2 separate regions of the Homo sapiens genome follow, and region 1 is linked to region 2. A link means that fine-mapping ties the variant in region 2 to the expression of a gene that starts in the linked region. Tissue or cell type: whole blood. Region 2 holds a variant in brackets; the other region holds the start of a gene. All regions are shown on one strand. Distances are from middle to middle.

What was found. PIP is the estimated chance that this variant, and not a neighbour inherited with it, causes the effect.
Region 1: it holds the start of HAT1, and the variant in region 2 is fine-mapped to the expression of HAT1 in whole blood (INTERVAL, PIP above 0.99).

Annotation. Positions count from the first base shown.
Region 1 is chr2:171,920,373-171,925,594 of GRCh38, reverse strand. HAT1 (histone acetyltransferase 1) reads right to left here and starts at 3,134. Exons shown (of 11, transcript NM_003642.4): 1 at 3,088-3,134; 2 at 1-58. The coding sequence starts at 3,094. It overlaps LOC105373740 (a long non-coding RNA gene), which reads left to right and starts at 3,206. Exons shown (of 3, transcript XR_923579.2): 1 at 3,206-3,556; 2 at 4,364-4,515. RefSeq lists enhancers at 2,860-2,909, 3,050-3,698.
Region 2 is chr2:171,972,091-171,977,312 of GRCh38, reverse strand. It overlaps HAT1 (histone acetyltransferase 1), which reads right to left. Exons shown (of 11, transcript NM_003642.4): 9 at 1,005-1,156. It overlaps LOC124905590 (a long non-coding RNA gene), which reads left to right. Exons shown (of 3, transcript XR_007087296.1): 3 at 1-621. It also overlaps the pseudogene LOC100420002. Among named protein-coding and RNA genes, the nearest start is that of METAP1D, 25 kb to the left of the region's middle. The variant A/G (reference allele first, on the strand shown) is at 2,871.

The DNA.
Region 1 (5,222 bases), 52 kb after region 2:
AGTTTCTTCTCCACTGCACTCTTATATTCTACCAAAAATTTCTCCATAGCACCAAATCCTAAGAGAAAAGGTTTTTAAAAGGTTTAGTTTGGAAGTGACTTAAATTGTCAAACCTGCAATAGGGTTATTATAAGTGGAATAGGGGTATGATTTAAAACATGCTGATAGATCATAAAAGCACAAGTCATTCTCCACATACTCTTAAATAAATGTATTAAGAATGCCAGCTGGGCACGGTGGCTCACGCCTGTAATCCCAGCACTCTGGGAGGCTGAGGTGGGTGGATCACAAGGTCAGGAGTTCGAGGTCAGCCTCGCCAAGATGGTGAAACCCGTCTCTACTAAAAATACAAAAATTAGCCGGGCACGGTGACGGGCGCCTGTAATCCCAGCTACTTGGGAGGCTGAGGCAGGAGAATCTCTTGAACCCAGGAGGCAGAGGGTGCAGTGAGCCGAGATCATGCCACTGCCCTCTAGCCTGGGCGACAGAGCAAGACTCCATCTCAAAAAAAAAAAAAAAAAAAAAGAATGCCTCATTACAAAACAGAAAAAGAAATCACTTTTGAGATACAGGCTTATAAACTAGGAATACTTAATATAAATGAATAAACCTGAAAATTAACATGATAGATTACTAACATTTCTGAACATGTACTAATACAAATTACCTGCTAGGATTTATACCTAAGTCGTCTTTTTCATTATAAGATGTAAAAAGCAAAATGAGAATGTCCTCTGATAATTATGACAGAATTTCATTTTAAGTATTGGAAAAAGTCTACCAGAGTGCTTCAGATAAGGAAATGATAATGCATGGAATGTCTCAAGAAGAATACACAAATATCTGGTAACCATAGTTACCATGGGTAAAGAAAGAAGGAAGAGGAACAGGGGCACAAAGAAAACATCTTTCCACTGTATTAAATATTTAAAAATCATGTATGCCTAAAGTCATAAACTGTGAGCTACTGGCACAATAGTTTTACTACATAGTGGCTACTCAATAATATACATAATAAATAACATTGGAAGATATCACTATCAAGAGAAACTTTCAAGATAACAAATCTCCTGACAAAATGGGCATATGATTAGTAAAAATGGGCTGGGCGCGGTGGCTCACGCCTGTAATTTCAGCACTTTGGGAGGCCGAGGCAGGGGGATCGCGAGGTCGAGACGGATATCATCCTGGCCAACATGGTGAAACCCCATCTCCACTAAAAATACAAAAATTAGCTGGACGTGGTGGCGCGTGACTGTAGTCCTAGCTACTCCGGAGGCTGAGGCAGAATTGCTTGAATCCAGAAGGCAAAGGTTGCCGAGATCGCGCCACTGCACTCCAGCCTGGTGACAGAGCGAGACTCAGTCTCCAAAAAAAAAAAAAATCAGTAAAAATTCAGACAGAAAAAAGCCATAAGCAAAAAATAAAAAGGGGTACAATGATGTGCTATAAACTTCAAAAAGGGGTTAAAACACACACACAGAAAATGGGAAAGACTTGAAGCAGTACAGATTAATAGTCTGGAGTGAGAATTCCTGGATTCTGACTATTTCACACACTTACTGAGCTAGTAAGCTCAGGGAACTAGAGCACATTACTTAACCCCTCTGACCCTAATCTACAGAACCGAGATTACAGAATTTACTTCGAGGAATGTAAGCAACAAAATTTAACCTGTGAAATCATATATTAGCTCAATCTGCACAATTCTATAAGTAGGTATTACATCAACCCCATTTTACATTCAAAAGTTCAGGCTTAGAAAGAGGTTTAGTTGAAGGGCATCCAACTACTAAATGATGGGCCCAAAATTCGAATTTAGATGTAATTCTTAGAGTACGTCCTCCCTCTTCTGTGGTACTTCAAGATCCTACAATCTCCATCTGGTAGAAAAGTCCTTCTTTAAACATCTGTAGAGCTCACACAACAGCTTGTCTATCCCACATATTCATAAAAATGGAATGGTTAATGTAGAGAGACTATGAGGAATGCCCTGTAAAGAGATGATAAAAGCAACAAAGGCCAGCGAAGTGGCTCAATCCTGTCATTCCAACACTTTGGGAAGCTGAGGCGAGAGGATGGCTTGAGGCCAAGAGTTCCAGACCGGCCTGAGGCAATACAGCCAGACTCTGTCTCTAAAAGGTTAAAAAAAATTGTTTTTTTTTAGCCGAATGTTGTGGCGCATGCCTGTAGTCCTAGCTACTCGGGAGGCTGAGGCAAGAGGATCGCTTGAGCCTACGAGGAGTTGGAAGCTGCCCGGAACTATGATCGCTGCACTCCAGCCTGGGCGACAGAGAGACCCTGTCTCAGGAAAAAGAAACTGTCCATAACTTCAAAAGATAAGTAATCGAAAAAAATAATCACACCAAAACAGCCTTAATACACGTACAAAGTAATAGCAATTATACATTATTAAATGTTGTAACTTGAAGGGTCTCTAGAATGTACACAAGAGAATTGTATTATAGTAGTCCAACCCTAAAAGAGAAGGGAGCAGTTCAGGAACAAAGTCTTTCTCAAAGGGCATCTAAATACGATCCTCGGAATACTAAAGTGTGACAGATTAACGAGACGACTACGAAGTCAGTCGAGATCCAAGTGGGAGCGCCAGAGCAGGGCAAGGCAGCAATGCGCTAGCTCAGAAGTTGACTGTAGTGGAAGGTAGACGGAGACCTGGAAGAGGAGGAGGATCTGAGCATTAAAATCAGCTGGCGGGAACAGGACCAGATGTACAAGAGCTGAAGCAAGCAGCAGTGGACAAAAGGAATGGGAAGAGAAACAGGCCCCAAGGCATGTGGCATTTTACGAGCCCAAATCATGACGCTTTTCCCTGGCGTCTTCGGCCCTCGGTAGGGGCCGGATTGCTGGCAGAAGGCGCAGAACCCCAAGCAGTTGGGGGCGGGGGCGCGGACCGCCGCCAACAAGGAGCTGCTGGGCTGAGAGTTCCGCGCTTCCGGTCCCAAGCAGGCCTTCTGGAACCCAGGCTACAGCCCGAAAGTTCTAGGCGGGCATTGTCACCACCGTCTCGGCGTTCTATCCCCGATCTGGCCGCCTCCTCCCCTTGGTAAACTTTTCCCGGTAACTTACCCGCCATTTCCGAGCTACGATCACCCGCGGCTGAGGAAGGACGAATCAACCCGCGCGCTCCCGGGCCGGAAGTGACCGCACAGTCTGACATATTTTCCCCGCCCACTCCCAGCGTGACGTTAGCCAATTAAAGGAGGCGTGTCCAGGAGCCCGGCGGCGGAAGCGCCTCAAGAGGCGGGGCTAACGCCGAGAAGTCTGCGCGGGCCGTTGCCTAGCCACTGCGAATGCCGTCAGCCGCTTTGCAGGCCTGAAGTGGAGAAGGAGGCCGCAAACGGACTTTCGCGGTTGAGATGCTCTCTGGCCCTAGGAAAGTTTCTCTGGGGTTGATTTGATCAATACAGACACTTTACGCCTGTTTTCCATACCCGTCCCTGAGATGTTTTGGAGACTGGCTGAAAATCTTTCCTCTTGGCCTGGACAGTGCATCCAAACACCTGAGCCCTGTGGGCAATTTTACCATTTTACCTAGGTAAAATGTAGAGGTTGAGTTTCAGTTGCGGGAGAAGCTTTCACTTGTTTTCCTCATTTGTTTCTCATTTTGCTGTAAACTTTAACACCTTTTTTCCTTTCTCCCCTGTTTTTAACGTATACAGTATGATATTTAGGTACTCTGCTTTCACTCTGCAGGTTACTAAGAACCGTTTAGCGCGCAAAAATCGTTACCTAGGCCGGGCGCGGTGGCTCACGCCTATAATCCCAGCACTTTGGGAGGCCGAGGCGGGTAGATTGCCTGAGCTCAGGAGTTCGAGACCAGTGTAGCCAACATAGTGAAACCCCGTCTCTACTAAAAATACAAAAATTAGCCAGGCATGGTGGCAGGCGCCTGTAATCCCAGCTACTCGGGAGGCTGAGGCAGGAGAATCGCTTGAACCCTGGAGGCGAAAGTTGCAGTGAGCCGAGATTGCGCCACTACACTCCAGCCTGGGCAACAGAGTGAGACTCCGTCTCAAAAAAAAAAAAAAATTGTTACCTAATAAATACCTCAAGTAGCCTGATGTAGTCTTGCATGCCACATGTCCTAGTGGTTTGAATTACATCACAAGGTGCTACCTGATTTTAGCCATAGGCCTTGTTAGTATTTAGTAGCTGTAGGAACTGCTTTCCCCAGAGGATAAACCACTATTTAGGTATCCACAAATATTCCCACAATGTTGGCTATACACCAGAATTCCTTATCTCAACAAATATTTGTTAACAGGTTTTACAGTGATGCACGCTAAAGCTAAAATGGACCCTTGGGATGATGGTCTAGAACTAACACGCCCTCTCATTTTAGAGATGAGGAAACCAAAGCCCAGAAAAGATAAACTGCCCAAGTTCATTCTCAGTATGCAACCTATGCAGAGTGCAGTTCATCAGATACTCAGCCCAGTATTTATTTGCTCAACTATATAGAGATGGCTTTCCTGAAGATAAAGATCAGAAAAGGTACTGAGAATGCCCAGATCCTTTTTCTTTCTTTTTTTTTTTTTTTTTTTTAGACGGAGTTTCACTCTTGTTGCCCAGGCTGGAGTGCAATGGCACAATCTCAGCTCACCACAGCCTCCGCCTCCCGGGTTCAAGCGATTCTTCTGCCTCAGCCTCCTGAGTCGCTGGGATTACAGGCATGCGCCACCACACCCAGCAATTTTGTATTTTTGTAGAGACGGGGTTTCTCCATGTTGGTTAGGCTGATCTCGAACTCCCAACCTCAGATGATCTGCCCATCTCGGCCTCCAAAAGTGCTGGGATTACAGTCGTGATCCCAAGAAAAGGTTTCAAGATCCTTTTTCTTGAAACCTAATGATACACAAGAAATTACAGTCATAGGCCGGGCGTGGTGGCTCACGCCTGTAATCCCAGCACTTTGTGATGCCGAGGCGGGCGGATCACGAGATCAGGAGATCCAGACCATCCTGACTAACATGGTGAAACCCTGTCTCTACTAAAAATACAAAAAAAGTAGCCGGGCGTGGTAGCGGGTGCCTGCAGTCCCAGCTACTCAGGAGGCTGAGGCAGGAGAATGGCGTGAACCTGGAAGGCGGAGCTTGCAGTGAGCCGAGATCCCGCCACTGCACTCCAGCCTGGGCAAGAGCGAGACCCCGTCTCAAAAAAAAAAAAAGAAATTACAGTCATAATGTTAAGACAGAAAACTG
Region 2 (5,222 bases):
TTTTCGTATTTGTAGTAGAGACATGGTTTCACCATATTGGACAGGCTGGTCTCGAACTCCTGACCTCGTGATCCACCCAAAGTGCTGGGATTACAGGCGTGAGCCACCTCGCCCGGCCTACACAAATTTCTTTTTTTTTTGAGATGGAGTCTCGCTCGGTCGCCCAGGCTGGAGTGCAGTGGCACCATCTCAGCTCACTGCAACCTCCGCCTCCCCAGGTTCAAGCAATTCTCCTGCCTCAGCCTACCGAGTAGCTGGGACTACAGGCGCATGCCACCATGACCAGCTTTTTTGTATTTTTAGTAGAGGTGGGGTTTCACCATGTTAGCCAGGATGGTGTCAATGTCCTGACCTCATGATCTGTCCGCCTCGGCCTCCCAAAGTGCTGGGATTACAGGCGTGAGCCACCACTCCCAGCCCATCTCACATACTTTCATAATCCAAATCCTACTCATTCTTCAAGGTTTATATCAAATGCCATCCTTTCTATGAAATAACCACTGATTTCCTTGCTTACATAAATGTAATAAACTTTCTTCTCTGAACTTCCATATTTATTTTTTCTGTACCTATCTTAAGACATTTACCACTTTAAAATTTAAATAAATATATAAAAGTATATAAAATGAAATACGTGTTTTACTTCAACCATTCTTCCCACCAATAATGTCTCCAGGGGTACAACTACTTTAAAGAGTAAAAATAAGATCCTATTATCCATCTTTCCTCTGCTTGTTATGCTTAATATAGCAATAACACCTATTATCTTCCCATTTTATTAATGAGGAAACTGAGGCACGAGGTAAATTAAATTGCCATAAATCACAGAGCAAGTGTTGGAGCTAGATTTGAACTCAGGCAATTTGGCTTCAAAGCTGTACTGTTAACCATTGCTAGTTCCCACACATGTATTCTTAATGTCTTTATAATATTTTAGTTAAGGTATACACTTCAAAAATTTGTTTGTAATTTAAATCTGTTTTCCTCCTACAGAATAAAAATACCTTATTTATTTTGAACTTCTGTTGTGCCTCTATCACCATATCTTCATTGAATCCTTGCATTAATTTTTCCCGGGAAAAACAGGGCAAATCTTGACAAAGCTTCACAAGCACAAAGTCTCGTAATTTCACATAGCTTTTGGATGGATCTTCCGCTAAATAAATAAAGCAGAATAATATTAACATTTCCCTGATACTCAATATAATTTCTTCATCTTTTGCAATCTCAACATATATGCTAGGCTGCTCAGGAGGCTGAGGCCTGAGAATCGCTTGAGCCTGGGAGGTGGAGGTTCTACCACTGCACTCCAGCCTGGGTGACAGAGCGAGACTCTGTCTAAAAGAAGAAAAGAAAAAAGACATCAAATCAATATAACCTAAGAGTCACTCTTAACTAGATAAGGAAGGGCAAATTAAACCCAAAGTAATAAGAAGCAATAATAATAATAGAGTAGAAATCAATGAAAAAGAAAACAAAAATAGACAAGTTCACATAAACACAAAGTTGGTTCTTTGAAATGATCGATGAATTGACAAACTTTTAGTTAGAATGACTGAAAAAAAAGAGAGAAAACAACATTTACCAAAATCAGGCATGAAAGAAGGGATATTCCTACCAACTTTACAAAAATCACAAGAATTAAAAGGGAATATGCCATGAACTTTATGCCAACAAATGAGACAATTTAGATGAAACAGACAGCTTTTAGAAAGAAATTACCAAAATGACTCAAAAAGTAAATGACTATGTGAACTGACTATAACAGAGACATTTAATTACCAACTAAAAATCTTCCCACAAAGACAAGTCTACAACCAGATGGCTTTACTGGTAAATTCCATGAAACAACCTGAAGAAGACATAACGATGATCCTTCACAAACTATTCTAGAAAATAGAGGAAACAGGCCAGGCACAGTGGCTCACACCTGTAATCCCAGCACTTTGGAAGGCTGAGGCGGGCGGATCACCTGAGGTCAGGAGTTTGAGACCAGCCTGGCCAACATGGTGAAACTCCATCTCTACTAAAAATATAAAAATTAGCCATGAGTGGTGGCGCAGGCCTGTAGTCCCAGCTACTTGGGAGGCTGAGGCAGAAGAATCGCTTGAACCTGGGAGGCAGAGGTTGCAGTGAGCCAAGGTGGTACCACTGCACTCCTGCCTGGGCAACAGAGTGAGACTCCATCTCCATTAAAAAAAAAAAAAAAAGAAAGAAAATAGAGGAAACACTTTCCAACTCATTCTATGAGGCCAGAGTTATGCTGACACTAAGGATCTAAGACAAAAACTACAAATCAATATCCCTCATGAATGTAGATACAAATGTCCTCAACAAATATTAGCAAACCAAATCTGGCAATATATAAAATGAATTACATACCAGAACTAAATGGGATTTATATCAGAAATGCAAAGTTGGTTTAACATCCAAAAAAAATCAATTAATGTAATATACCATGTTAACAAAATAAATGAGAAAAATTCAATACATGCAGAACAAAGCGTTTGACAAAATCCAACATCAATTCATGATAAAAACGCTCAATAATCAACTATCTAGAAATAGAAGGGAACTGCCTCAATTTCATAATTAACACATATGAAAGCTATAGCTAACATCATCCACAATGGTGAAAGACCAAATGCTTTCCCTCTAAAACTGGGAGCAAGGCATAGATGTCTGCTTTCACCATTGCCAGTCACCATTATATTGGAGTTCTCAGCTAAGCAATCGGGTAAGAAAAAGAAAGAAAATGCATCTGACTGCAAAGGAAGAGGTAAAAATGTCTTTATTTACAGACAATGTGATCCTGTATGTGGAAAATTCTAACCAAAAAACTACTGCAACTAATAAACAAGTTCAGTAAG[A/G]GTGCAGGATAGAAGATCAATATATAAAACCCAACTGTATTTCTACATACTAAAACAATCAATGATCCAAAAACAAAATTAAGAAATTAAGAAAATAATCCCATTTCCAACAGCATCAAAAATATTTACAAATGAAGTTAACAAAAGTAGTGCAAAACTTGTATACTGAAAACAACATTGTTGAGAAAAGTTTTAAAAGATCTAACTAAATGGAGATATTTCTTTTTTTTTTTTTCTTTTTCTTTTTTTCTTTTTTTTTTTTTTTTTTTGAGACAGGGTCTCACTCACCCAGGCTGCAGTGCAGTGTACGATCTTGGCTCACGGCAGCCTCAACCTCCTGGGCTCCAGTGATCCTCCCACCTCAGCCTCCTGAGTAGCTGGGCCCACGGGTGCTTGCCACCATGCCTGGCTAAATTTTGTATTTTTGTAGAGATGGGATTTCATCACATTGCCTAGGCTGCTCTCGAACTCCTGGGCTCAAGCGATCCACCTGCTGTGGCCTCCCAATGTGCTGGGATTACAGGTGCAAGCCACCAAGCCTGGCCCAAGACATTTCATATTAATGGATTAGAGCAGTGATCCCCAACCTTTTTGGTACCAGAAGTGCCAAAAATATCTAGCACCAGGGATTTTGTGGGAGGCAATATTTCCCTGGGGATGAGGGGAACAGACAAGGGATGGTTTCCAGATGAAACTGTTCTACCTCAGATCAGTCATCAGGCGTTAGTTAGATTCGACCTACATCCTTCACATGTGCAGTTCACAATAGGGTTTGTGCTCCTATGAGAATCTAATGCCACCACTGATCCGACAGGAGGTAGAGCTCAGGCAGTAATGCTTGTTCACCCATCATTTACCTCCTGCTGTGTGACCCAGTCCTAATAGGCTCTGGACCAGTACCAGTCCGTAGCCCGGGATTTTGAGACTCCTGGATTAGAGGATTCTGAATTGTTAAGATGGGAATTTTCTTCAAATTAATGACAGATTCAATGTAATCCCTCAATCCCTATCAAGACCCAAGAGACTTTTTTTTTTTTTTTTTGCAGAAATTGGTGAGCTTATGCTAAAATTTTTATGGAAATACAAGGGACATTATAAACAAAATAATTTTGAAAAAGAACAAAATTGGAGGACTTTCACTTCTGATTTCAAGACTCATATGTGGTTGAGGTGCTGCTTTGCCAGAGCCTCTGTGCCTAAAGGAAGGAGAAAGGGAGGCCACAAAGGCTAAGCAAGGCAGTACAATATTCCCCAAGCAGATCAACGCACAGCTCCAAGTTGAAAAGCAGAAGGCCAGAGAAGACACAAGAAGAGAGTGGAGAATGGAGGCTGCAAGTGACCCCAAAAAAGAAGAAATCTCTAGCATCAGGCAAGAGATTGCCTGAGAATGAAGATGACTGACTGCCAACAAAAGTACAAAGGCACAGAACAGCTCATTGACATGAAGAACCCCAATTGGATGCCATAGATAACCAGAAAGGTCACACAACTGAATCTGGGCAGGCCAAAGGAGATTTCAAGAAAAGAAGACATTGAGAAGAGAAAGCAAAAGAGCATTACATGAAATTGCATTTAGCTGGGGAGACAGAGCAGGTGATTATCTGGAAATAGCAGGAGAAAGCCAAGAGGAAGAAAGAGAGGAAAGCAAAAGATGATTCATGTTTGTCAGGAAAGTGAATGCAGTCACTCTCCCTGAAGAAGTAAGCATGGACTATATAGGAGCAGATACCAGGAACTGGGCCATGCTGCCAAAACCTCTGCTGTGCCTTGCCCACTCTGTGCTGTCGCCACTGCAGCAGCCCTTTACAGCTAGGAGACCCCACAGCTTGCTGCCTGTGGGGGTTGGGGCAGGGCACCTGCTATAACTTTGTGTGTGCCAGGCCAGGTGCAGCTGCTCACACCTGTGATCCCTTGCTTTGGGAGGCCAAGGCAGGAGGACAGCTGGAGCCCTGGAGTTCAAGACCAGCCTGGGCAACATAGTGAGACCCCATCTCTACAGAAAATACTTTAAAAATTAGCCAAGTATGGTGGCATGTGCCTGTAGTTCCAGCTACTTGGGAGTCTGAGGCAGGAGTTTTGCTTAACCCCAGGAGTTCAAGGCGCAATAAGCTATCACTCCACTGCACTCCAGCCTGGGTGACAGAGCAACACCCTGTCTCAAACACTACCCCTACCTCACCAAAAAACAAAAAAAAAAACAACAAAAACAAACAAACAAAAAAAAAAAACAAAAGAAAAACCCTGGAAAGATGCAGATAGCATTTCATATGTAACCGTTTAAATGTTTTCTTAAAAACTATCTTTAAGAGTTCAGGATTCTGGTCGGGGGCCTGGGAGGAGTGCCTTAGAAAG